Homo sapiens: one gene and its partners. The protein of the gene in region 3 interacts with the protein of the main gene of each other region in a pairwise test. Each region holds a gene or a part of one and is shown on either strand. Other genes may lie near its edges. The genes, in order: TRIM54, KRT38, PSMA1, KCTD13, PSME3IP1, HTT and BANF2.

Region 1 (3,500 bases), on a different chromosome or scaffold from region 3:
CCTGTTTGATACCTTCTGGCGTTTGTAAATGGTGGGCAGTGGGGCCACCTCACAGTCCTTGTGGGCACCGAAGACCTTGCAGAGAGAGCAGGTGGGCACCTCACAGCTCAGGCAGTAAATATTGATCTTCTCTTCTTCATGCTCCTCGCACATGAGGTGCTGCTCAGCCTTGGAGTGCAGCGGCCTAGAGAGGAGTGGGCAGGGGGAGGTGGACCTTAAGCATGAAGGGTCCTAGGAATACCTTCTCTTCAGCCTCCACCAACTGCCACCACCTTCTCCGCCCCTGCAGCTAGTGCTGTGGCTGAACTGGTGAGTACTTCCACAGAGCTCTGAATTTGGGGAACAGAAGGAGCTAAGAGATAGAGGAGGCCTGGATCCGAGAACAGTCTGTATTACAAGGGGGCAGGGAAGTCCCACAGGACAGGAAGTCTTGGAGGGTTAGCGAGGATCTTGCTGGTGGACTGCCAGCCTCTCCCAGGAGGAGAGGGTAGGAGTGAAGTACTGGCTAGGGAATCAGAGACTGCCCTCTCTGGGAGGCCTGAGGCAAGTCCCTCTCCGGATCCAGTCCTATGGTCTCTAGACAGAACAGGCAGGTTGACCGTTTCAATCTCTCCCTTTTGGCTCTGATGGGTTCCTTGGCTGTGTCCCAAGCCCTGTCATGAGAGAGGCAAGAGACTCTGGTGGCTCACCTGGATGACTCCTGCTTGTAAATGTCGATAATGTTCTCCACTAGCAGGTTTCGCTGCAGGCCGTAGACACCGTGTCTGTCCAGGACAACCTCATGCCTGCACGATGGGCAGCGGAAACGGCCTCCTGAAGACACAGTGGTGGAGCCCCGGGACTGCCATAGAGGATTCGAGGCCTGCAGGGACAGATGGCTTGAGAGAACAGGCACGGGGAGGCATGAAGGGACTCGGAGGAGGCAGGGGGAAAGGGCTTGGGGGCTAGGGAGTAGGAACTTGATGGAGGGGAAGATGTCAGCTCTTCTCTGTGGCTGGATCCACCTCTGAGAGCAGCGCACGGTGGACGGCCATGGAGACCCTGCTTCCCACCTTTGCCTCATTATTCAGCCCACCTCCTAGAGTGCCCCTGCATCCAGAACTCAGCTTTGGTCAAGGCATAGTCAGGATGGGATCTCTCCAAAGGGGTCCAGCTTGGAGCCATGGGGAGACATTGGTCTTGGCAATAAGGCTGAGGCAGGAAATGAACTCTGAGTGGTGCGACCAATGTCTTCCAGTCTGGGGCCCTCTTGGGCCACAACTGGAGGAGATTCTCTGCAGTCCTGGGCAGGGGTACAAGCAGATACAAGTGCTCAACAATGGGGTTCACAAACTGTAACTAGCCAGGTAATTCTAGAAAATTGCTCCAGGAACTGGAAGTCAGGAGTCCTGGGTTCTTGTGCTATCTCTGATGCCCTCCCCCCGGCCTTTTTTTTTTTTTTTTTTTTTGAGACAGGTTCTTTCTCTGATGCCCAGGCTGGAGTGCAGTAGTGGGATCACAGCTCACCGCAGCCTCGACCTCCTGGGCTCAAGCAATCCTCCCATCTCAGTCTTCTGAGTAGCTGGGACTAGAGGTGTGTGCCACCATGCCCAGATAATTTTTTTTATTTTTAGTAGAGATGAAGTATCACTATGTTGCCCAGGCTGGTCTTAAACTCCTGACCTCAAGTGACCCTCCCACCTCGGCCTCCCAAATTGCTGGGATTATAGGCGTAAGCCACCATGCCCAACCTCTTAAGTATATAAATTTAGGCAGGTATTCAACCTCTGTAAAGCTGAGGATAAAATTATTCATTTATAGTGTGCCAGGTAGTTGCTGGACTCTGAGTTAAAGATACAAAGAAAATGCATCCTGTCCTAAGGACAAGCACCTGACAACTGCATCCAGCAGGATGGGTGTTGTGATAGGGGTAGGCTCAGAAGGAGGACTTAACAGACACCCATCACTTCCTCCGGCTTACATCTCTTGCCTAGAGTAGTTGCTCCATCCTATCCTAGAAGGGAGATCCCTGCCACAGATGATTGATTCAGAGCTAAGGAGGTGATCACCTGACCCAAGCAGAACCAATCAAATATTCTCTCCTAAGAATTTGGACTTGAGACTCAGGGGCTTAGCTGGCTACGCCATGTTCTGCTTAGGAATTGAATAGACCTGTGGAATTGGGCTAAGAGCTGACATCACGGCCACCCTGGAAAGTGTAAGGGGTCAGAAACTGAACAGAGAAGGCTGGTCTACAGAGAAAAGAGTCTATGTGTGGGGAGATGCAGAGATGAAAGACTGGCAGACACTGCTTATTGTACCCTGACGTTCACCACCTTTTCTTCTTTAATAATAAGTGCCCTGAGTTTTAACAAGACACATGGTATAAAGGGCTGGGTGTGGTGGCTCATGCCTGTAATCCCAGCACTTTGGGAGGCCGAGGTGGGCAGATCACTTGAGCTCAGGAGTTTGAGACCAGCCTGGGCAACATAGCAAGAACTCATCTCTACTAAAAATAAAAAAATTAGCTGGGCACGGTGGTGCACACCTGTAGTCCCAGCCACTTGGGAGGCTGAGGCAGGAGAATTGCTTGAAACCAGGAGACAGAGGCTGCAGTGAGCTGAGATAGTACCACTGCACTCCAGCCTGGGCAACAGAGGGAAACTCCATCTCAAAAAAACAAACCAAAAAACCCATGAATCTAAGCCTCCCTTCCAGCTGGGTGTGGCCAATTGGCTGTGCTCTGGGATGTAGATGCAAATGTTTTGTGTAATTTGTAGGAAATTGCACAAACCGTCTTTCATGGGAGGGGCATGCCCTGCTCCTCCCCTTTTCTCCTGCCTGCTGGCTGGAAAGAAGACGGGATGGCTCAAGTTGAAGCAGCCGTCTTGAGCCATGAAGTGGCAGCCACATGTTGAGAATGGTAACGAGATGAAAGGAGGTCTCTGATGAGGCAGTCCTGCACTGTCCACCCATACTTTCACTTGAGAATAAAGCAAATTTTTACCCTCTTTAAGCCACTGTTATTCTGGGGTTTCTGCCACTTAGAACAGAACCTAATCCCAACTGGCTGGAAGATTATGCATTCCTAGAGAGTAATGGAGACAGTGGTCACCTATGAGCTAGCATAGTGAGATGCACTTCCTACAACTGGGATGCATGAACTTCTCCAAACCCTTACACCATACACAAACCAGAAGACAGTTTGGAAGGCCCCTTGCGTGTGTGCAGCAACACCCCATCATGCACAGAGTGCAGCCAAGTCAAGGGTCTTGTTTGATCCTTTGGTAGCAAGGGCTGTAGGCAAGGCAGGAAACGTGGACCCACTGTGAAGTGAGCAGCTTATCTTGGGGAGAGTAACTGGTGTGTGCCATAAATATCACATCTTTCTTGGGATTTCTTGAGAATCATGTTAACCTTTAAGCCCATCATAAACCTGGGGCAGATTAGTTTGAGATAATTCAAGGCATGTTTGTACATCTGCCTTCTCAGTAGCTAGAAATGTATGAATATTGTTGAGT
Region 2 (4,284 bases), on a different chromosome or scaffold from region 3:
TTTGCCGCTCCAGGTCGGCCCGGATCTCAGACAGCTGCTCCTCCACGTTGCTGATGAGGCTCTGCATCTGGGCCAGCTCCGTGCCGAAGCGGTCCTCGGCTTCACACAGGGAGTTCTGCAGACAGTCCTTCTGTAGTGGGAAATAAGGGGATAAAATATACAAGGCCCCAAGGGAAACTGCTACATGCCTCAAATTTTGATGGTGATAACAGGTGGGAGAAACTTGGGTAGTGAGACCTCCAAAATAAAATGCTACTAGGCCATGGCACGGGGCATTTGCAGTGCAGTGAGAGTGAAGGACACGTACCAAGGTGTGCTGGGCTTGGCGCTCCACCTCCAGGGCATTCACCGTGCATCTCAGCTCCAGGATCTCCGACTGGCAGCACTGCAGCTCCTCGGAGCAGGACATGTCCTGCAGGCTGATGCCTTCAGACTGGAGCACAGAGAGACACGGTCACCTCCCTGCCCAGATGGAGGCCAGGTACCCCCTGGTTCTATACCCCCCCCACTCACCTGGGCTTGGAACCACTGTTCCACATCCTGGCGGTTGGTCTCCAACATGGCCTCATACTGAGCCCGCATCTCCCCCAGCACCCTGTTCAGGTCAATGGTGGGCTCAATGTCCAGCTCAATCCGGAGCTTCTCCCCCAGCTGACTCCTCAGAATCTTTACTTCCTGCAGAAGGGAGGAAGGGACAGACAGCCTGCATGAGGAAAGGGCCTTTGATGGAGCAGACAGCACCAGGACCCCGCCCCTGGCAAGCAGTAGGAGGGGAGTCCCACACACAAGCAAATGGGAAAGTCTTGCCCAGAGGGCATTCGGGAGAGCCCACCTGCACACCTTCCTCATGCCCAAGGCAAGTCTGCACTTTCCACAGAGGCCCTCTGGACCCTCAGACCCACCTCAGCCCTGCATCCTGATGCCAGCTGAGGCCAGGCAATGCTCTGAGAGCCCGGGGCTGGGGAGCTCCCCTGTCTGCCCAGTGCCCTCCCCAGGAGTTTGAGCGCCCAGGGCCACACCTGCTCGTGGTTGCTCTTGAGGGAGAGCTGCTCCTCCTTCAGGGACTCCTGCTGGGCCTCCAGGTCGGCCTTGGCCAGGGTCGCATCATCCAGGAGCTTCTGTGTCCCACACTTGTCTGCCTCCACCAGCTGGCGCAGGGAGCGCTCACTCTCCAGCCTTTCATCACAGGAGGTACAGGGTCAAAAAGAATGCCCCCAAGAGCCCCTCTCGGCTGCCCTGGCTTCCTACCTCCCACACCACCTTGGATCCTCATTTATTCACTCTGTTTAGCCCTCTGTCCTCAAAGGTGAATTAGACCCAGCCCCTCTTCTCAAAGAGCTCATGGTCTAATGGAGAAATCACAACACTACATTGCACAATATACATTTTTGCCATTGTATTCTGTGGCAACTGCAGTTCAGGAAGATCAACTGACTTGCGTAAGATCATGCATCTTGGGACCCAGTCCAACGCTCATGCCATTGCAGGGGCTGTCAGTTACCAAAGATAAGCAATAACCAGGTGCCTGATCGTGATCTGCGGCTCCTTATCCCTTGCTTTCAGCTGTCTTCCCCTCTCTCATTTTTGCCTAGGTACCTTATACCTGGTACCTTAGGGCTCCCTAATTAAATCTGGACAAAGACTCATCTGTAAGTGACTCCTCTGACTTATATATGAAACCCAATGGCTGTCTTGCTCAGTTCATCCTTCAAATCACCTCATTTTGCTCCTGGTTAATGAACTCAGGCTGCCTTATCCTCCATTTTAGGGAAATAAATGAAGGAAGACAAACATATATGCTTGGATTAATGAGGAGTTTTCCCTTCCATCTTCCATCAGCTTCGATTGTAATGAAAATTTTACTGTAGAGAATCTAGCAAGGAAGAAATGACAATGATTCCCTCACTCAACAAGTATTTGGGCATTGGGATGGAGGGTGGGGAAGGAGTCACCCTGGCCCTCCTCCGCCTGACTTACTTGATCCTAAAGTCATCGGCAGCCAGCTTGGCATTGTCAATTTGTACAATCAGCCTGGCATTCTCGGCCTTGCTGCACAGGATCTGAGGAGAACAGGAAGACAGTTCACACACAAAGCATCATGCCCTAGGCTCCTTCTCCACGTGTGGTGTCTATGATCATGTCCAAGAGAAACCAAGAACCCAAAGTTCTCTGAGCTTTACATGGATTCCTCCTGTCTTGCCTCTGCCATCTCAGACCCAGCACACCCAAGCGATCCCACACCTCACCTTCTGTTGGAGCTCCTCGATGGTGTGGAAGTAAGACTGGTAGTCGGGGCACACGGTGGACTCGTGGCACTTGCTCCTCTCGAGGAGTGTGGCCTCCAGCTCCGCATTCTCCTGCTCCAGCTGGCGCACCTTCTCCAGGTAGTTGGCCAGGCGGTCATTCAGGAACTGCATGGTCTCCTTCTCATGGCCATTCAGGGTGTTTTCACCATAGGCCCCACAGATTCCAATGTTGCCAGGAATGTGGCAGGTCCCTGGCAAGGGACAAGCAGTGTGGCAGGTAGGCGGCAGACAGAGGCTGGGGCGGCCCAGGGGAGTGGACCCCACACGGACTCGGTTGGCATGTGCCACGTTGGCCAAAAGGCACATGGGGGCAATGTTGGCCTCTGCCCCAGGCTGGCACCCAATGTCGATGGGAGAGACAGAGACATTTCTTGCTCCAGGAGCCATGGTGCAACCCAGAGGGCATGAGGAGCTGCTGTAGGAAGAGGTCATGGTGTTGGGCTGAGGCTGCACAGGAGCTTCAGATCAGCTGGGAAAGCTGAACCACTGAGACTGAAGCCTCCTCTCCTCCCAGCCCTTTTATACCCCATCCTGGGCGGGTGTTGGCTCCAATGCTTTGACCTCCTGCCTTGATTATCTACCTGTTGTGGTGCCATCATCCTGTTACTCAGCTGCTGAGTTTACCATGAAAAGTTTCTCAGCTCGTTAAAGGAATGTTGACGAATCTGAGGCCTCTTGGCTCTTTGAAATCAGGTTGGCTGTTGATGGGAGGTCAGAAGCTTTTTATTATCTTTCAAAGAAGCAAAGTTATAGCCATCAGATGCTTAGACCTTGACTGGGTTTGGCCTCTTTATGGATGTGTCCACTCTGGAGACACAAACTTTCCTGTTGGTCAGTGGTGTAGCAGGAGGACTAACCCCGGTGATGACAATGGTTCTCACTTGGGTTAAGACTCAACCAGCCTTCCCTATCCAGGGAAGAAACTGAGTCTTGGAATTGGTGGATGTTATGGCCTTGGGTTATCAAGAAGTCCTACATTTCTTCTTTCTTTAGTTGGTTGCCTTTCAGACTCACTTTGAGGAGCAACAAGACTTAGATGAATCCAGTCACTCAAAACACATCCCCTGGCTACGTCCCATATGCTACGCACCTTGCTGATGCTTGATATATAGTTGGTTAAGCACAAAATAGTTCCTGCCATTGGGGAACAACTGTAACTTGGGTAGACGTGATGTTTCAAACAAGGTATCTGAGAAGCTCATGAAAATGAGGATGACTCCAAAAACCATGGCTTATCTCGACCAAGAAGGGCAAGCTCAAGAAGCCAGAAATAAACAAAGAGAAATGAGCAATAATCTTACTGAACCTCAAATAAGAACTTGGTCATGAAAGTCAAAGGACATTGAGTGATCAGAGCCTCTGTGGGCTCTCTTCATACCTTGCTTCCTTTATTCTAAAGTCAGTCATGAGCCTTCACCCTATGAGCTAGGGGATTGAGCAATGATACCTTTTAATCTTTACTTCCAACCTGGGAGGTGGGTACTCTTAATTTTACAAAATAAATAAACAAGCCATTGAGGACAGTTTTCTAAGATCAACCTCACTATAAAGTATAAAGCCTATTCTCAACATCAGCTTCTTTCAACTCCAGAAACTGTTTCTTCACCTTGACCACCTCCAAATCCTCCACCCCAAGGATAACTACTGTGTCATTGCTAGAACTAAGAAGGATTCAAATTCCTAGAAACCGGGCAAGAAGTTGAAATTAAGATGTAAAACAAAAATCTGACATTGTGTATTTTTCCCTTTGTATCTCAGAAAATACAGATGTGGAGGTATTCATACAATAAAACAGAGTTTCTCCAAGGGCTAAATCAGAAGATGCCAGGGGAAAGTCCTGTCCCTAAAATGGTTATATTACACATTCCACATTCAGATAGTTCTTGGTACTAGGGATCCAAGACACATGGCTGCTGAGATCCCAAAACTTTTCTCCCAAAATTTGTGACAGAAGATACATAGACCCCTGAGACTAAGA
Region 3 (3,006 bases):
CTCTAATTTCAGTTTACATGGTCTAAGATAAAAATGGTTCTGCAATACCTGAGTATGCCACTCATGGGAATAACAGAAGGCAGCCTAAAGATCATGCTGGAGTGGGGCTGGAGAGGATAAAAGGTTTGGGATTACAATTTCCCATGTGTTGTTTTTACAGAAGTTCCCTTCAAAGACCAGAGCTACAACTACTGCCATTTGCTGGTTGGAAAGAAAACCATTCATATGATAACTGATGCTTATATCAGGAAGTGGTGGTTTCTTAAGTTTTAATTAAAATCACCACAGTTGAACCCTGAAATTTGTATTCTAAACCAAATCTCCATGGATTCTCATGCAGCCAGTTCATACACTGGAGAACTGTTATAAGGCTATGACAGATAAGAGGTATTATTTTTCTCCATCACTAAAAATAAGGCAATTTAATTAGGCAAATGACCAGTTGTAATCCCAGACTACTATATAGAGTTGAAGCTACTTAAAAAAACAAAAACCCAATATACCAGGCGGTGAAACAATTTTATTTCACAGTTGTCTTTAAAACCACAAAGACACCTATGTTCTTCATATAAAAACATTAGTATAGATACCCATACTTTCTAGAAAATGATTATACAGACCCTTTCAAAGAAAAATGTATTCCATTATATAGGTTTCAGTGAGGTTGCTTGGAAAAAACTCACATCTGGACTGATTCCTAAAACATAGCATTCCACCACTCTGCAACTTTTGGTTCAAAGTATAGATTATTGTCATCAGTATGTGGTGCCTGTATTCTTACATATTTGATAATACATATATAGACTGGCTTATCACTTAATGTTCCATTGGTTCATCAGCCTTTTCTGCAGGTTCATCAGCAGGTTGAGCAGGCTTAACAGGGAAAGAAAAAAAGAAAATATGTAAAATGAACACTTGATCAATATACACATCTAATCACAAATATTACGTTATTAAAAATTGAGAAAAAGGGGTAAAGAGATATTCTGAATACTCAGTTTTAGTTCACTGTCCTGTTAACATTTCTGAGCAGTATTTTTTTTCTCCTTGAGTGCTCATGATTTGAGGGAATAAAGATTTTTTATTTAAAAAAAATACAGTTGGCTCGAACAACAAAGGTTTAAACAGTGAGGGTCCACTTATATGCAGATTTCTTTTTCTTTTTCTTTTTCTTTTTTGTTTGCTTTTACTCTAACATTGTTTAGGGTGAAGCTTTTTTTTGTTTGTTTGTTTTCCAATAAATATAAACTAGCAGACCAACTGTGTAGCCTAGAAATATAAAAAAAAAGAGTAAGAAAAAGTTAGGTATGCCGAATGCATAAAATATATGTAGAAAATAGTCTATTTGGTCGGGTGCAGCAGTTCACACCTGTAATCCCAACACTCTGGGAGGCTGAGGCATGAGGATTGCTTAAGCCCAGGAGTTTGAAACTGGCCTGGGCAACACAGTGAGATCCCATCTCTACTAAAAAGAAAAAAAATGTGCTGGGCATGGTGGCACACACCTGTAGTTTCAGCTACTTGGTGGCGCGGGGGAAGGTAGGAGAATCGCTTGAGCCCAGGAGTTCAACCTTGCAGTGAGCTATGATGGCACCACTGCACGCCAGCCTGGACAAGAGGGCAAGACCTTGTCTCAAAAAACAACAAAAAAGAAACTAGTCTATTTATGTGTTAATTGTCAGTTTATGTTATCAGTAAGGCTTCCAGTCAACAGCAGGCTATCAGAAGATTTTTAGGAGTCAAAAGTTATATGTGGATTTTCAACCATGCTGGGGTTTGGCACCACTAAACCCCACACTGTTCGAGGATAACTGTATATATAATTTCACATTTCTGAAAACCTAAATATCATTGAACAATTCCACCATTTTATCGTACTTTGCATTGCTCAGGAATAAAAGCTTTCCTTGTATTATCACTACTATGTTTAAAATACAATCAGCACTTTTTAGACATTCTTTTCCCCTTTGCCAAACTAGTTTGTGGTATTCCACAGCATTCTTCCCAACAGTGCTAGTTTTTACCAAAAACAGTTTAAATATTGCAAATCTTGATCCCCCAAATAGTACCAACAATATCCTTTCCAAGTTAAAAAAACTCATGCTGTAGAAATTTCCATACTAGATTCTTTTTTACTTTCAATTACACTGCTATCAAATAAGCATCTATAAATAGCAAATGTATATTCTAAACATCTAGCAAAAAGACCCATATTTCACCTGAGATTCACTTCTTGATGCTTTTCTCTTTATGAAGAGCCATCTTAGTGTCCAAAGCTGGCCCCCAATGAGCATTTCTCCCAGTCTCTGCTCAAACAGAATCTGGGCCAGGCCAGTGACTCACTTTAACCAACAGAATGTGTACAAGTGATGTTGTGCCAGTCCTGCATCTCAGCCTTAAGAATGCCTGGCGGCTTTCACTTCTGACTTTTGCAAGCCCTGAGTTGCCAATATGCTAGAGAGACCCTGCTGAAGAAGCGGCCCTGAAACTACGTGGACAGAGGCTCAGTCATCCTAGCAGAGGTCTCTGCCTTCTAGATGCTCCTCTAAGACACCTAAAAGGTGTGAGTAAAGAAGACATGTGACTGAAGTTATCTTGGGTGTTCCAGTTGCACCCCACAAATGACTGCAATGTTTGAGAGATCCCAGGTGAGACCAGCAAAGAACCATGTAGGTGAGCCCCAGTCAGCCGCAAAATTGTGAGAAGTAGTGTTTGTTGTTCTAGCCCCTAAGTTTTGGGGTAGCTTATTACCTAGCAATAGATAACCAAATAATCAACACTTCTCCCTTTTTGTGTTTGTTTTTTTTTTTTGAGACAGAGTCTCTCTCTGTCGCCCAGGCTGGAGGGCAGTGGTAGGATCTCAGCTCACTGCAACCTCCGCCTCCCGGGTTCAAGCGATTCTCCTGCCTCACCTCCTGAGTAGCTGGGACTACAGGTGCATGCCATGACGCCCAGCTAATTTTTGTATTTTTAGTAGAGACGGGGTTTCACCATGTTGGCCAGGAT
Region 4 (3,388 bases), on a different chromosome or scaffold from region 3:
TAGCTAAAGACAGTGTTTTATCATGTGTGGTGGAGGGGAGGGGGTTTGCATCAGCAGCGAGGTGTTAGTTCCTTGAGGGCAGGGCCATGTCTTTTTCTTTCCTATCTCCCATTAGCTGGGCCCTTTTCACACAGTGGAAGCTAGGAAACATTTATTGAATGAATGAATGAATGAATCAGTGACCCAGCTTCCAAGAAACATCCTCTGATTGGGAAGATAGGAAGATAAACCAATAATTAGAGTGCATGGCTCACACCTGTAATCCCAATACTTTAGGAGGCTGAGGCAGGGGACCATTAAGGCCAGGAGTTTGAGGCCAGCCTGGGCAACACAGCAAGACCCCATCTCTACAAAAAATAAAAAAAAATTAACTGGACATAGTGGTACACCCAGGTACTCAGGAAGCTGAGGTGGGAGGATCACTTGAGCCCGGGAGGTTGAGGCTGCAGGGATACATGATCACACCACTGCACTCCAGCCTAGGCAACAGAGTGAGATCTTGTCTTAGAAACAAACAAACAACGATTAAAAAAAAAAAAAAAAGGCCGGGCATGGTGGCTCACACCTGTAATCCCAGCACTTTGGGAGGCTGAGGCGGGCAGATCACGAGGTCAGGAGTTCGAGACCAGCCTGTACAACATGGTGAAACCCTGTCTCTACTAAAAATCCAAAAATTAGCTGGGCATAATGGCACATGCCTGTAATCCCAGCTACTCCGGGAGGTTGAAGCAGGAAAATCGCTTGAACTTGGGAAGTGGAGGTTGCAGTGAGCTGAGATTGTGCCATTGCGCTCCAGCCTGGGTGACAGAGCAAGACTCTGTCTCAGGAAAAAATAAAAAATAAAAATAAAAAATTAAAAAAACAGTTTGCTAAGAGCTGTGTTAGATGCTTCCAAGGCCACACAAGGGAACACCCCAGTCACCTCTTCGACTTCATCCCTTTCCATTCCCTCTCATCTCTGCCTCAATTGCATTGGCCTCCCTTTTGATCTTCCAGTAAGACACTGGGTGCACTCCTGACCCACAGCTCTCACGCTGGCCCTGGCCCTCCCCAGGCTGCTCTTTCTGCTCTGTGTGCCTTGTCCCCTCCCCCACTCCTTTGGTCAAATATCACCTTCTCAGTGAGGCCTTCCCTGGAGTCCTTCTTAAAGTTGTAACACTCCTGGCTCTGGCTATCACATCCCCTTTTCCTGATGTATCTCTTTTCCTGATGTATCTCTTTCTCTCTCTCTCTCTTTTTTTTTTTTTAATAGATGAGGTCTTGCTACATTGCCCAGGCTGGCTTTGAACTTGAACTCCTGGGCTCTAACGATGTTCCTGCCTTAGCCTCCCAATGTGCTGGGATTACAGTCAGGAGACACCACACCCAGCTTATATCGTTTCCTAAACATCATCATTTGACTGCATTTATATTTTATTTTATTTATTTATTTATTTATTTTGAGATGGGGTCTCACTGTCACCCAGGTTGGAGTGCAGTGGTACAATCTTGGCTCACTGCAACCTCCACCTCCCATGCTCAGGTGATCCTCCCACCTCAGTCTCCCGAGTAGCTGGGAACACAGGTGTGGGCCACCACACCTAGCTAATTTTTTGTATTTTTGGTAGAGATGGGGTTACACCATGTTGCCCAGACTAGACTCAAACTCCTGGCCTCAAGCTGTCCTCCCACCTTGGCCTCCCAAAGTGCTGGGATTACAGGCCTGAGTCACTGCGCCAGGCTAGTTTATATTTTCTTAAGTGTATGACTGAGTCCTCCCACTAGAATGTAACCTCCTGAGGACAGAACTCTTGTTTTGTTCACTGCTATTTTTGCAGTGCCTAGAACAATACCTGGTGCAGTGCACTCACTCAGTATTTGTCAAATGAAAAAATATACCAAGAGGCTAGGCAGGGAAGGAGATGAAGGAGAGAAAACAAATAATTCTGCCTGCCTGACTTCAGAGCTGAGCCTTGAAGTATGACTTTGCTGAGTAAAGGAGTGGCAGAGAGGCCAGGCCAGGCCCAAGGACCTGACTGCAGGGCTAGGAGGTGTGTTGGTGCAGGGGCCCTAGGCAGGGGGATGGCCCTGCGTGACTGCACCAGAAGGAAGGAGCTGGGGCCGGCTGGCCTTTTGCAGGTGGAATTTCCAGAGGCCCGGATCTTCGAGGAGACCCTGAACATCCTCATCTACGAGACTCCCCGGGGCCCAGACCCAGCCCTCCTGGAGGCCACAGGGGGAGCAGCTGGAGCTGGTGGGGCTGGCCGCGGGGAGGATGAAGAGAACCGAGAGCACCGTGTCCGCAGGATCCATGTCCGGCGCCATATCACCCACGACGAGCGTCCTCATGGCCAACAAATTGTCTTCAAGGACTGACCTCTGACCCTCCCCCTGCCTTCCTCTTGCCTTGGGACCCAGTCCCTCTCTCTTTCCCTCCCCTTCCCAGACTTTTGCCCCGGCTCTGCTGGCCAAGTCGTGGGTCCTCCTCTGTCCCTTCATTGCATGGCACAGCTCACTTTGGCCCTTCTCCACCCATCCCAACCCCATTGCTAACAACATGGTACATTCCGGCCCCACCACTCAGAGCCTTCCGAAGCCAACACTTGTCCCCACCCTGGCCCTGCGTCCTTCCCTCTCCAGCTGGTTAAGAGGGATTTAGAATTCCCTTTCTCTTTTTTTAGTGCATCGTCCATGCCAAAGTGTGCGGCCCTTCCTGACATCACCACAGTCTGAGCAGCCTCCCGCGTCCTGCAGGGTAGTCCGCCCCCTCCTCCCCACCATCCTCCCTACCTCCTTAACTTTGTACTAGACTGGCCTGGGCCTGCCCAGCTCAGCGTTATCAGTCTGTTTCATATTATTTATTATTTTAATTTTCTATTAAATTATTGAAATAAAGTTAAGTTGAGAAACTGGTGCTGGCTCCTGGGGAGAGGGACGGGGAGATGCCTGTGTTAGGAGGTATCTGGCCGGGCGTGGTGGCTCACACGTGTAATCCCAACTACTCAGGAGGTTGAGGCAGAAGGATCACTTGAGCCCAGGAGTTCAAGACCAGCCTGGGCAACAAAGCAAGACCCTGACTCTACAAAAAAAAAAAAAAAAGAAAGAAAAAAAAGGAGGTACCTGTTTGGTTGTACTAGGAGAAGACATAAGGCCCTGCCCCAGCCTCTCCCTGCGAAGGAAGTAGTCGGGAGTTAGGAGAGGATTCAGAATTTATATTTCAGTGCTCACTAGCCAGTTCCCATCCTCCGCCCCCGCCCACCCCCGCAGTAGAGAGGAGGTCCTGGCTACCATCAAGCCGTCCCTGAGCGCAGTGTCTCTCCAGCCTGGGTGTGTGAAGGGAGCACCTTCCTTCAAGGGTCTGGGGCGAAGACAAAGTCGAGGGCCTGGCGCTCAGCCCCTGCCACGTTGG
Region 5 (3,500 bases), on a different chromosome or scaffold from region 3:
CACTTCTGATTTAGCAGCACTCAATGACTCCAGCCAGAGGCTCATTACTGAAGCAGAACTGTTCAGTCTCTGTGAAAATGCCAAAAATTCCTCAAGTTCTACAGAACAACCTCTTATGAAACCAGAGCCAACAATTTCTTAAATGTCTCTGGCAGAGAAAACGTGAACTTTCTAGGGCTCTAATGGTTGGGAGAGACATTCCGAACCCTCAATTTCCCCCTTTCTTATCCCCTATTAACCGTGTCTCCTTTCTCATCCTGTATTAATCATCTGGTTTCTTTCCATCACCCATTTTTCCTAGTAAATAATTCAGGGTGGGATAGTCCTTATAGCCCACCTAATATGATAATCCACTCGACATCTGAATTTACCATACACACCCAGGAGAAGGTCATCCAACTCATATATTAAAACTTCAAGAGGGACCACTGCATTCCCTTCCTAGGCAGCCAACTCCCTCTCTAAGCAGATTTGACTGTTAGGATAGTTCTTCCTTAAACTGAACTGAAATCTGTTTTACTATAAATTCAATACATAGGTTCAATCCACTGGGACTATACAAAAAGAATCAAATCTTTTCTAACATGACCATACTTCAGTTGTTTGAAGACAATTCCCATGTTCCTCCTAATTTGTTGCTTTTCTGAGCCAAACATTCCTAGTTACTTTAATTTTATAAGATGGAGAAAAATAATCATGTCTGAAGGAAATGAATTTATCAGATTAGATATGATTTAAACCTGGGAAATAAATACTAGGATACGGCAATGCCATTGGTGTCCCAGTAAATGTCTCTCTTCATTCTTGTTATATATATATAATTTTTTTTTTTTAAGACAGAGTCTCGCTCTGCCGCCCAGGCCGGAGTGCAGTGGCACGATCTTGGCTCACTGCAACCTCCGCTTCCCAGATTCAAGCGATTCTCCTGCCTCAGCCTCCTGAGTAGCTGGGATTACAGGTGTGTGCTACCATGCCCGGCTAATTTTTGTATTTTTAGTAAAGATGGGCTTTCATTATGTTGGCCAGGCTGGTCTCGAACTCCTGACCTCAGGTGATCCACCGGCCTTGGCCTCCCAAAGTGTTGGGATTACAGGTGTGAGCCACTGCACCCGGCCTATATTTTTAAAAGAGAAAATTTAAAAATCTTCCAATATGCCAAAAACAACAACAACAACAATAAAAACAAACCCTAGAATTTTACATTTCTACCTAAATAAGAATTCAGAGAGCCTCCTGGGCTCAAGCAGTTCTCATGCCTCAGCCTCCCGAATAGCTGGGACTACAGGCATGCACCACTACACCTGGCTAATTTTTTTTTTTTTTTTTTTCGTGAAACAGGGTTTCACCATGTTGCCCAGGCTGGTCTCAAACTCCTGGACTCAAGCAATACAATCTGCCCACCTCAGCCTGCCAAAGTGCTGGGGTTATAGGCATGAGCCACTGTGCCCGGCCTACAATCTTTTATACACAGGGACAAAACCAGAAATCAGTTGGTTAATGAAAATAAGAAATAAAGTAAATGCATATTTAAAAAAAAAATTTAAAGGCAAGCGTTGCAGGGGAAAGAAAAATACAAGAAATGTATTTCTCATCAGCTCTCAGTGGGTTGGTGTCCTGAAAACACAGTCACACTGTCAAAACTAATGCACACTTACAAAAGTCTGCTCTTTAAAACTAATATCTTAATTCAGGCTGGGCATGGTGGCTCATGCCTATAATCCCAACACTTTGGGAGGCCAAGGCAGGAGGACCAGCCTGGGCAACAAAGTGAGACCCCCCATCTCTACAAAAAATTTAAAAAACTAGCCAGGCATGGTGATGTGTGCCTGTAGTCCCAGCTACTCACAGGCTGAGGTGGGAGGATCATTTACTCCAGGAGGCTAAGGCTGCAGTGACCCATGATCGCACCACTGCGCTCTAGCCTGGGCAACAGAGTGAGACCCTGTCTCAATAAATAAATTAATTAATTAGTAATAAAACTAATATCATAATTCTGGCATTCCCTTGATCCCCAAATAAAGAAAATAAGCCAAGTTAGATGGACACACATAGTAATAAATTTCTGTAAGTTTAAAAAGACTAGACTAAAACATAGACTGCTTTATGCATCTTTTTTCAAATTAGCATTTTCTTCTGTAGGTCTTCATTCTCTGCATGGCTTTGCTCAGGCTGTTCCCTCTGCCAGGAATGCCCTTGCTTTCTTTTCACCCGATGCAAACTGCTGCTCCAACCGCCCAGAATCAGACTAAAGACCATCTCCTTTATGAAGCTTTCCAAGACCTCCTAGAGTAGTTAATATGTATTTCCTTCCTTTGTGTTCCTGCTATGATCATTCATAACTCTACTACAGCCCTTATTCTTTGTGTTTTATCATCTGTGACTGTTCCAACAGCTCTTTGTCTCCACAGTGCTTATTATTATTAGCACAGTGTCTGGCATATATTAGGTATTCAAATACTTACTGAATAAACCAACCACGAGGAGCTGAAGAATCTGAGCAGGGAGGAATGAACTCACATGAATATTCCTAGGTACTGTGCAATGTAAGTTATAGAGATTGGTAGCCATCAAGCAAGTATTTGCTGAAGTGTCAGTATCATGGGAATTCTATTCAAACGCCATACAATTTGTGCAGTAAGAAACAAAGGACTAAAAATTAAATCTCTTTACTATATTATATAATTGATGTCATCTTTCAAAAATAACTGCTACTTTCCGTTAATTTCAACTGATTAAAAATGGTCACTTATCCTGCGAAAGCAGTACTTGATGGAGACAGCGTTTTTGTTTGAAGAGTCCAATGGCTGTTTATTCTGCAAGAAAGAGGTGATAAGTACCTGTAACTTACTGACCTGCTGGAAGTAGACAAAGAAGCTAGAAAATTAGATTGTGTTGACTTCTAATTCCTATTGTCTAGGTAAATTTTCACAAGTCTCTTCTTTTTCCCTTTTGTTTGCTAGGGTAATTAAAAACAAATCAAAAGACAAACAGCCCAGGGATATCAGGGATACGGGCTCTAACTGTGAAGAGCCCTGTAGGAATGCAGAGGACTTACATTAGGAATGCTTACTTTGTCCTTACTGTGTTCCACTTTAGAAAGAGTAAACAAATGCTGTCAGCTTTCCTTTACTCACGTTTTCCAAAGTGACTCAAGTTTAATTATCAAACTAAACATTACATTATTTTTTAAAGGATTTATTCAATTTCTTCAAATAGGGAATTCATGGAAAACTAAAACCATTTCAAAATTCACTTTGTCCACCAAACTTAGAGTCCAAATTGGCACAAATAAAGAACGTGGTTTTCAAATCTGCCTGACCGTCAAGAAAACAAAGTTCTTATATTTCAAGCCAAAGTAACTGGTAACACTGAACTACTGGGTTTACATTGGAGACCGTCCCATTTAATTTCCAGGGTGGTGGGACAAAATGGGCTCAGTTCTTACATAGCACACTACACATGTTTTAAAATACAAAACTTACATTGTTGCTCCCCAAATA
Region 6 (3,500 bases), on a different chromosome or scaffold from region 3:
ATACTCCCCAAGTTGATCTACAGATTCAACACAATCCCTCTCAGAATCCTACTTGGCTTCTTTGTTGAAACTGACAAGCTGATCCTACAATTCGTACGGAAATGCAAGGGACCCAGCATGGCCAAATCAATCTTGAAAAGGAACAAAGTTGGAGAACTCACATTTCATGAATTTAAACTGTGACACAAACTTCAGTAATCAAGACTGTATGGTACTGGCACAGGATCGACATAAAGACCAACAGGTAGAACTGACAGTCTAGAAATAAATTTATACAATTAAGGACGATTAATTTTCAACAAGGGTACTAAGATAATTCCATGGGGAAAGAATAGTCTCTTCAACAAACAGTGCTGGGACAACTGAATAACCACATGGAAAAGAATAAAGTTGGACTTCTACCTGAACCATATATAAAAATTAACTCAAAATGGATCAGACTTAAATGTAAAACTCTAAAATTCTTAGAAGAAAACATAGGAGTAAACCTTTTTGACTTTGGATTAGACAATGATTTCTTAGATATGACACTTGAAGCACAGCAACCAAAGACAAAATAGATAAACTCGACTTCATCAAAATTAAAAACTTTTACACTTCAAAAGACACTATCAAGAAAGTAAAAAGACAATCCAAAGGAAGGGAGAGTTTTTACAAATCATCTATCTGATAAGAATCCAGTATCCAGAATATATAAAGAACTATTACAATTCAACAATAAAAATACAAAGGGAAAAAATGAGAACAAGGGTTTGCAAGGTAAGTATAAGAAAGAGCCTGGGTTCTGACCGGGTGCAGTGGCCCAAACCTGTAATCCCAGCACTTTGGCAGGCTGAGGCGAGTGGATCACCTGAGGTCAGAAGTTCGAGACCAGCCTGGCCAACATGGTGAAACCCCATCTCTACTAAAAACACAAAAATTAGCTGGGCATGGTGGTATACGCCTGTAATCCCAGTTACTTGGGAGGCTGAGGCAGAAGAATCACTTGAACCCAGGAGGTAGAGGTTTTAGTGAGCTGAGATCACATCATTGCACTCCAGCCCGGGTGACAAGAGCGAAACTCCGTTTCAAAAAAAAAAAAAAGAAAGAGCCTGGGTTCCTTAACTTATTGTTGAATTTCCCCAGACTTATTTTTGTCTTCTGATAAGCTCTTGCTTGTTACCAGTTTAAGCTATTGCAGCAGGATTTTCTGTTACTTGCAGCTGAATACAAACCTGATAACGCAAGCTACTGCTAAATTGTTATACTTAGCAGAGTTCAACAAGTGCAGTTGGTTCCGCATTCAAAATCCAGTCAGTCATTCCTCACACTGCCCACAGCCGACAGCCGGTACCCTGACAGAACCCACCATGCTTATCTGAGCACTGCAGTGGCTTCCTAACTGGTTTCTGCTTTTGCCGGTGTTCCCCTTCACTCTGTTGTCAGCCAGAGTTCACTTAAGATTGAAATTCAGATCATGCTACTCCTCTGCTCTAATCCTCCAGTGACATCCCATCTCACTCACATAAATGCCAATATCTTTATTCCATCTACAAGGCAAGTAGTATTGGTCTGATATGGCACTCCCTTGACCTCTTGGACCTTACTTCTTACTACAAATGTCCCCCTCACTCAATTCACCCAACTAAAATGACATCCTTGCTATTCCTGAAACAGGAAGATTTTGGACCTGTTCCCCCCATCTGGAATACCACTACTTCATACACCCTTACACTAGACTCTTAACTCGCTTGAGGTCTTTACTCAAAAGCCATCATCTGGCCAGGTGTGATGGCTCACACCTATAGTCCCAACACATTGTGAGGTTGAGGTGGGAGGATCACTTGAGCCCAGGAGTTCAAGGCTGAAGTGAGCTACGATAGTGATACTGCATTCCAGCCTGGGTTAAAGAGCAAGACCTTGCCCCCCAACCCCAAAAAAAAAAAAAAAAAAAGCTGTCTTCTCAGTGGACCTTCCCTGAACACCGTATTTAAAATATCAACACTGGCCAGGTATGGTGGCTCATGCCTGTAATCCTAGCACTTTGGGAGGCCAAGGCAGGCAGATCACATGAGGCCGGGAGTTCGAGACCAGCCTGCTCATCATGGCAAAACCCCATCTCTACTAAAAATACAAAAATTACCCAGGCGTGGCCGGGCACAGTGGCTCATGCCTGTAATCCCAGCACTTTGGGAGGCCGAGGTGGGCGGATCACAAGGTCGGCGGATGACGAGGTCAGGAGATCAAGATCATCCTGGCTAACACGGTGAAACCCCGTCTCTATTAAAAATACAAAAAAATTAGCTGGACGTGGTGGCAGGCGCCTGTAGTCCCAGCTACTTGGGAGACTGAGGCAGGAGAATGGCGTGAACTCGGGAAGCGGAGCTTGCAGTGAGCTGAGATCGCGCCACTGCACTCCAGCCTGGGCGACAGAGCAAGACTCCGTCTCGGGGGAAAAAAAAAAAATTACCCAGGCATGGCAGTGCATGTCTATAATCCCAGCTAAACAGGAGGCTGAGGCATGAGAATCACTTGAACCCAAGAGGCAGAGGTTGCAGTGAGCCAAGATCACACTAGTGCACTCCAGCCTGGCTGATAGAGCAAGAACTGTCTCAAAAAAAACAAAACAAAACAAAATAAAATAAAAATGTCAACACTTAGTGCTACAGCTCTTTTGGAATTTGTCTAGCAGGCTTTCTGGGTTTTGCTGGAAAGCCCTTAACAATTTTTTTAAAAATAAAAATAAGTTAACACTCGATTAACCCTGACATTTCCCTATCCCCTTCCCTGCTTTGAAGTTCCTCCACGTATTAACGTACTGTATATTTTACTTATCTATCTTGCTTACTGTCTATGTCCTTCATTAGAATGAAAGCTTCACGAGGGCAGAGCTTTGTCTGCTCACTGCTGAGCCCTGCACCTATAACAGTGCCAGGCACATAGTACATGTTTAGTAAATATTTACTGATGAATGAATAAAGTCAGGGAAACACCAGATAGGAATCTGAAGGAGAATAAGAAACTGCCAGAAGCAAGTATTAATTGCCTCCTAATTACTGTGAGGACCCTCCCAAGCATGCTAGATTTGCTGAGCCTGCAGCCAGCCCCATAAGGAACTCCTGCATCCTGTATGCTGAGCAGAGCACAAACACTCATAAACTGAGGCCCATGCATGGCGTGACACCACAGTTCCACACCAAAGAGCAAGAGCCATAAAAACAGAACAGATACTTTCTAAATTGCTTTCATCAATCTTACTTTGAGAAGAGGATTTTTTGGCTGAAGCACGTGAACAGAACTGCCAAAATCCAAACTTTGTGAGCAGTGTTTGTTACTCAAAATTAGTGAATACCTCCTTTCTCAACAGCAAAATACAGAGAAATATGACAAATATGCATTTTATTTAAAATAACTATAAAACTATAAATAAACCTAATGCAGTTGATTTCAGAGCATGCTAAGAACCTTTAAAAGTTATTATTCTAGCCAGGCATGGTGGCTCACACCTGTAATCCCAGCAC
Region 7 (4,021 bases), on a different chromosome or scaffold from region 3:
GCACTGACAACGTCAGTTGTGCTTCCCCAAAACGTGGCTCAGTTCTGGCAATGAATAGATCCTCAGTAAAGCGTGCTGGTTGAACCCAGAGAGCTCAGCCAGCTTTGGCCCCAAAGCTACAGCTCCTGTTTATTCTCCAGCAACCCCTGAATACTGCCATCAGCTGGCAATACTATTTCAGGATCAAACCTAAGATACCAGCACCCTTACATGTTCTTAAAGTGTGTAGTCTCAGAGCAAGCAGCCTCAACGTCATGTGGGAACGTGTAAGAAATGTGAATTATTGGGTTCTCCCCCAGACCTAATGAGTCAGAAACTTTGAGAGTGGGGCCCAGGAATCTGTATTTTAACGAGTCTTCCAGGTCATTCTAATGCAACCTACAGTTTAAGACCCACTGTTTTGGACTCTAAAATTTAGGGCCACCCAACAGTTTCCAAAGCGAAGCCGTTTGCTCTTGGTTAGAACTCCTCCATCCCCAATCCCAAGCACCAGCAGCAAAAGGGAATGGAATCTCTGGAAACATTTTATACTTTGCCCCCTTTTTTGAGTTTTTCTTTTCTTTTTAGGCTTAGTAAATATACATTGTACCAAGTTATCAATTACCAACAATGGAAAGTAGCCCAGGCATATATGCTATAGAGGATAACCTAAAAGACACCTGTGTTGAATTTAACTTGAAGGTGGGAGGATTTATATTTCTGCTTGTTTTCCTGAGCTAATATTTAAGTTACTTCTCTTTCCTTGAGTCCCTACCAGGTGGGCAGTAGGGGGAAAGTCACGGGTATACTGGTAGAAGAAAAAGCTGCCCTGGAATTTCAAGTCCATCACAGAAGATGTGCAAGGAGCTGGGGGTACCCACGGAAGTCACTTTGTGCAGGAAAACTGCATGAAGGATGGACTTGGTTTAACTGAATTGACGCAGGCCAGGTGAGAATAGGAACCGTGGCAGCAAGTGGCAGCAGGTGGATTCATAAGCAGTCTTCCAGGCTGATGTTTTCTGTACAGCAGACATCCCTCACTCTTTCCCAGCAACCCCAGCTGAGAACAGCACCCAGACAGGCTGATTTCTTCTGGAGAGGCCTGAGGCTCTTGCTCCTGCCCTGCCCTGTGCCCTGATGCCAGCAGCCACTGCAGCCCTTTTTGTGCTCACCCCCGACCTGTGGTGTGACATCACAATGTAGTCCATTCAGGATCTTGAGACTGATTTGCCCCATGGGCCTAAGACATAAGCTGAACCTCTGGCCTGCAGTTCCAGATCCAAGGTGACTGAGACAAACTGCCAGCTGCCACTGGCTTATCAGGAGCACCTGGTGAGTATTCAGAACTTTCCCAAGCAGCATGGAAGGAGATACAGCCAACAGCTGGCTGTCTTAGCACTTTAAGGTCTCATTCTCACACAGGTTTAGATGAGCCAAACCGGTGGACAGGAGTTCACCAGGTAAGCCCCAAACTCTTCCTAGGAAAGCTGACTCACCTGATGCACACACCCCTTCCCAGCCTCTTCCTGCTGTGTCACCATCTGCGGGAGGTGGTACTCTAGTCTCCCCTAAGACTCGGCTTGCCACCTGCACCAGCTCCCTGGGCAAAGGTCACCTGTGTTCTTAATAGAGCAGAGAGGCCAGGCTTTCAGATGGCAAATTCACTAGAGCATCACTTCTAGCCCTAATTGAGGTCAGGGACAGCCATTGGCCAAATGACACACCACATAGCAGGATGAGCAGAGGTAGCTGACACAGCCACCTCCCGTCCAAAATGTGAACGACGGTCCTTCCTTTCTGTAAGAGGCCTTCCTGCTTTGGCTGTTTTTAAATCCACCTCCTGGTGACCTGCTGGTATATCAAATCACTTCCTTTCCTTTTGGGACAGTAAGAGAGCTTTAGGATCGTGACGGGAAATAAGGAGATGGATTAGAACACCAGGAAAGTGGGCAAAATCTAAGGTAGCGGGGACAGGGACAGAGGCCAAAGCCATCTCTCAAAGAGGATGCTGGCTCTTTCCATATGGGCCACCTGCACTCGGCTGAGGGTGGTTTGAGACTCAAGGCCTTCTATAACAAACAGTAGGGACCCGTTCTGGGCCCCAGGAGGCACAGCTGCCTTCCCTACCATGGCCCATTCGTGTTTTCCCACAGTCTGTCTACGGTCCATTCACCATCTGTGAGTGCCAACACGTCCACACAGCTGCAGCTGCGTCCCTTCTCCCACAAAGGAGTGGCTTCTATAGGGACCCCATGATTTTAAGAAGGCTCCTGGCTCTCCTTGACTGTGTAAGGTAGAAAGGGAGGTGGTGGGGGGTGGATCAGAGAAATATTTTACCCTTAGGCTTTGCCATCCCTCCTTAGTTTTATATGTGATGGGCTGAAGCCAACCTCTGCTTCACACACAAATCCAAGACGCCAATGGTTCACCAAGCATGCTAAGAACATTTTAGCCTATGTTAGGCCCCACTGGAAAAGGAAAAAAGACAGTAGAGGGGCCGGCGCTAGAGCAACCTGTGGTCCCCGTCCTGCAGCAGGTTTAATTTGGAGAGGAGAAAGGGAGCAAACGCTGAACCTCCCGTGCCAGACCCACCAGCTATGTTATTGCTCTTAATTCCGACCTCTGTGAAGCAGGTGTTCTCAGGTTCATTCTACAGACATAGAAACTGAAGACTGTTCTGTGCTGGTGCCACGTCTAAAGAGGGTCATTAACCTGGAGCATGCCTTCACTCTCTATCGACTATCCCCAACATTAGAGCTCTCTGAAAAGAGAATGGGCTGCTTTGCAAGGCAGCAAGAGTGTGCAGGCCACGGCTCTTCCATCAGCATGGAAGGGAACGGGATTCTTGTGATCAGCTGGGAGCTGGACCAAAAGACCTTTAAAGGCTGTTTCCAAATCCAAGATTGTAGGTTTCTGGGTGTTAGTACTTTGCCCACCCTCTGCGATTGAACTCAGGTGGGTCACGCCTTAAGGACGGCTGCAAACTTTCTGTTAGGCAAGGAGAACTGGGAAGAACCATAGAGATCAGCTACGGGCCCCAGGTAGGAAAGAGGAACCCAGGCTGGTTGAGGGAGTTTTCCAAGGCTCCAGAGCCAATTTGCAGAGTTAACCTGTGTTGACTGAACAAATGGAGGAGCCAGTTCTGAGTGCTGATCAAACGTTCCCATGCCCATCTCTCTCATTCACCTGGTTCTTTCCTATCAAGATTATGATTCAGCCACCATTTACAAAATGCCTGCTGCATGCCAAGTGTGTTTCCAGAGATTATTCCACCTACTCCTCCCCAGCTCCATGAGGTGGGTGTCATCAGCCCCGTTTCTCAGATGAGCATGGTTAGGTAACCACCCCAGAGGATCAGGTACTTGTGGAGATGTCATAAATACTAAATGACGAAGCAGGTCTTTCTAACCCCAAGGAAAACTTATGTCTCCATCTGCCGCCTCCCAGCTTGTGTGAGGAAGCAGGGTCTCCTTTCTTAGCCTTTCCCTAAGGCAAACTGCCATCGATGTGCCAAGTTCCACAGTGCCTATTTCCAGCTCCTCTTGGACGTTGCCCTGATGGATGCTGAACTCCCTGTGGGCCCGCCTGTTTCACTGGCCCGGCCCCTCACTCTGATGGGGCAAGATGGAGCGATGTCTATACACGGACAGATGTTATGCACCAAGGAAGAAAATCTGCTAATCGAAAGCAGCTTCAGCTAATTGTGGCACTCTCCCTTCTGCGTGGTGCCCTGAAATAGTAGCCATGCTCTGTTCTTTTTTCACATCAGGGAGCCCCAACTGGCAACTTAAATGAGGTTGCAAAGAAGTCAGTTACACAGACCTCTGCTGCCAGTTTCCATGGATGAGGCCTTGCTGATGCTCCTTGGATAGGACCCGTGTGCAACTGTTTGTGGACTTGGCTTCTTGCTGTGGATAATTTGGACCCACTGTTGGGCTGGAAAAGCCTCATTTAACCCTGGGGAAAACTGGAACCTTCAGAAATTTAATGGAATACTAAGCCCAAGAACACATGGTCTGACCTTGAACCCTGGTTCTGATCT

Evidence for each region.
Region 1: the proteins of PSMA1 (region 3) and TRIM54 interact in binary tests that used the Homo sapiens proteins (3 or more experiments, as listed by UniProt).
Region 2: the proteins of PSMA1 (region 3) and KRT38 interact in binary tests that used the Homo sapiens proteins (3 or more experiments, as listed by UniProt).
Region 4: the proteins of PSMA1 (region 3) and KCTD13 interact in binary tests that used the Homo sapiens proteins (3 or more experiments, as listed by UniProt).
Region 5: the proteins of PSMA1 (region 3) and PSME3IP1 interact in binary tests that used the Homo sapiens proteins (3 or more experiments, as listed by UniProt).
Region 6: the proteins of PSMA1 (region 3) and HTT interact in binary tests that used the Homo sapiens proteins (3 or more experiments, as listed by UniProt).
Region 7: the proteins of PSMA1 (region 3) and BANF2 interact in binary tests that used the Homo sapiens proteins (3 or more experiments, as listed by UniProt).

Annotation. Positions count from the first base shown.
Region 1 is NC_000002.12:27,295,929-27,299,428, reverse strand, and holds part of TRIM54 (tripartite motif-containing protein 54), read right to left. Parts: intron 863-3,500; coding exon 690-862; intron 185-689; coding exon 13-184; intron 1-12. UniProt on the Homo sapiens protein: May bind and stabilize microtubules during myotubes formation.
Region 2 is NC_000017.11:41,438,184-41,442,467, forward strand, and holds the start of KRT38 (keratin, type I cuticular Ha8), read right to left. Parts: upstream 2,801-4,284; 5' UTR 2,739-2,800; coding exon 2,247-2,738; intron 2,061-2,246; coding exon 1,978-2,060; intron 1,177-1,977; coding exon 1,020-1,176; intron 676-1,019; coding exon 514-675; intron 434-513; coding exon 308-433; intron 131-307; coding exon 1-130.
Region 3 is NC_000011.10:14,504,376-14,507,381, forward strand, and holds the end of PSMA1 (proteasome subunit alpha type-1), read right to left. Parts: intron 874-3,006; coding exon 817-873; 3' UTR 501-816; downstream 1-500. UniProt on the Homo sapiens protein: Component of the 20S core proteasome complex involved in the proteolytic degradation of most intracellular proteins. This complex plays numerous essential roles within the cell by associating with different regulatory particles.
Region 4 is NC_000016.10:29,905,839-29,909,226, reverse strand, and holds the end of KCTD13 (BTB/POZ domain-containing adapter for CUL3-mediated RhoA degradation protein 1), read left to right. Parts: intron 1-2,118; coding exon 2,119-2,355; 3' UTR 2,356-2,888; downstream 2,889-3,388. Other genes in the region: ASPHD1 (aspartate beta-hydroxylase domain-containing protein 1), read right to left, coding at 3,330-3,388. UniProt on the Homo sapiens protein: Substrate-specific adapter of a BCR (BTB-CUL3-RBX1) E3 ubiquitin-protein ligase complex required for synaptic transmission.
Region 5 is NC_000016.10:57,176,040-57,179,539, forward strand, and holds part of PSME3IP1 (PSME3-interacting protein), read right to left. Parts: intron 2,814-3,500; exon of another isoform or gene 2,463-2,813; intron 1,115-2,462; exon of another isoform or gene 1-1,114. UniProt on the Homo sapiens protein: Promotes the association of the proteasome activator complex subunit PSME3 with the 20S proteasome and regulates its activity.
Region 6 is NC_000004.12:3,077,681-3,081,180, reverse strand, and holds part of HTT (huntingtin), read right to left. Parts: intron 1-3,500.
Region 7 is NC_000020.11:17,698,745-17,702,765, forward strand, and holds the start of BANF2 (barrier-to-autointegration factor-like protein), read left to right. Parts: upstream 1-1,221; 5' UTR 1,222-1,311; intron 1,312-4,021. UniProt on the Homo sapiens protein: May play a role in BANF1 regulation and influence tissue-specific roles of BANF1.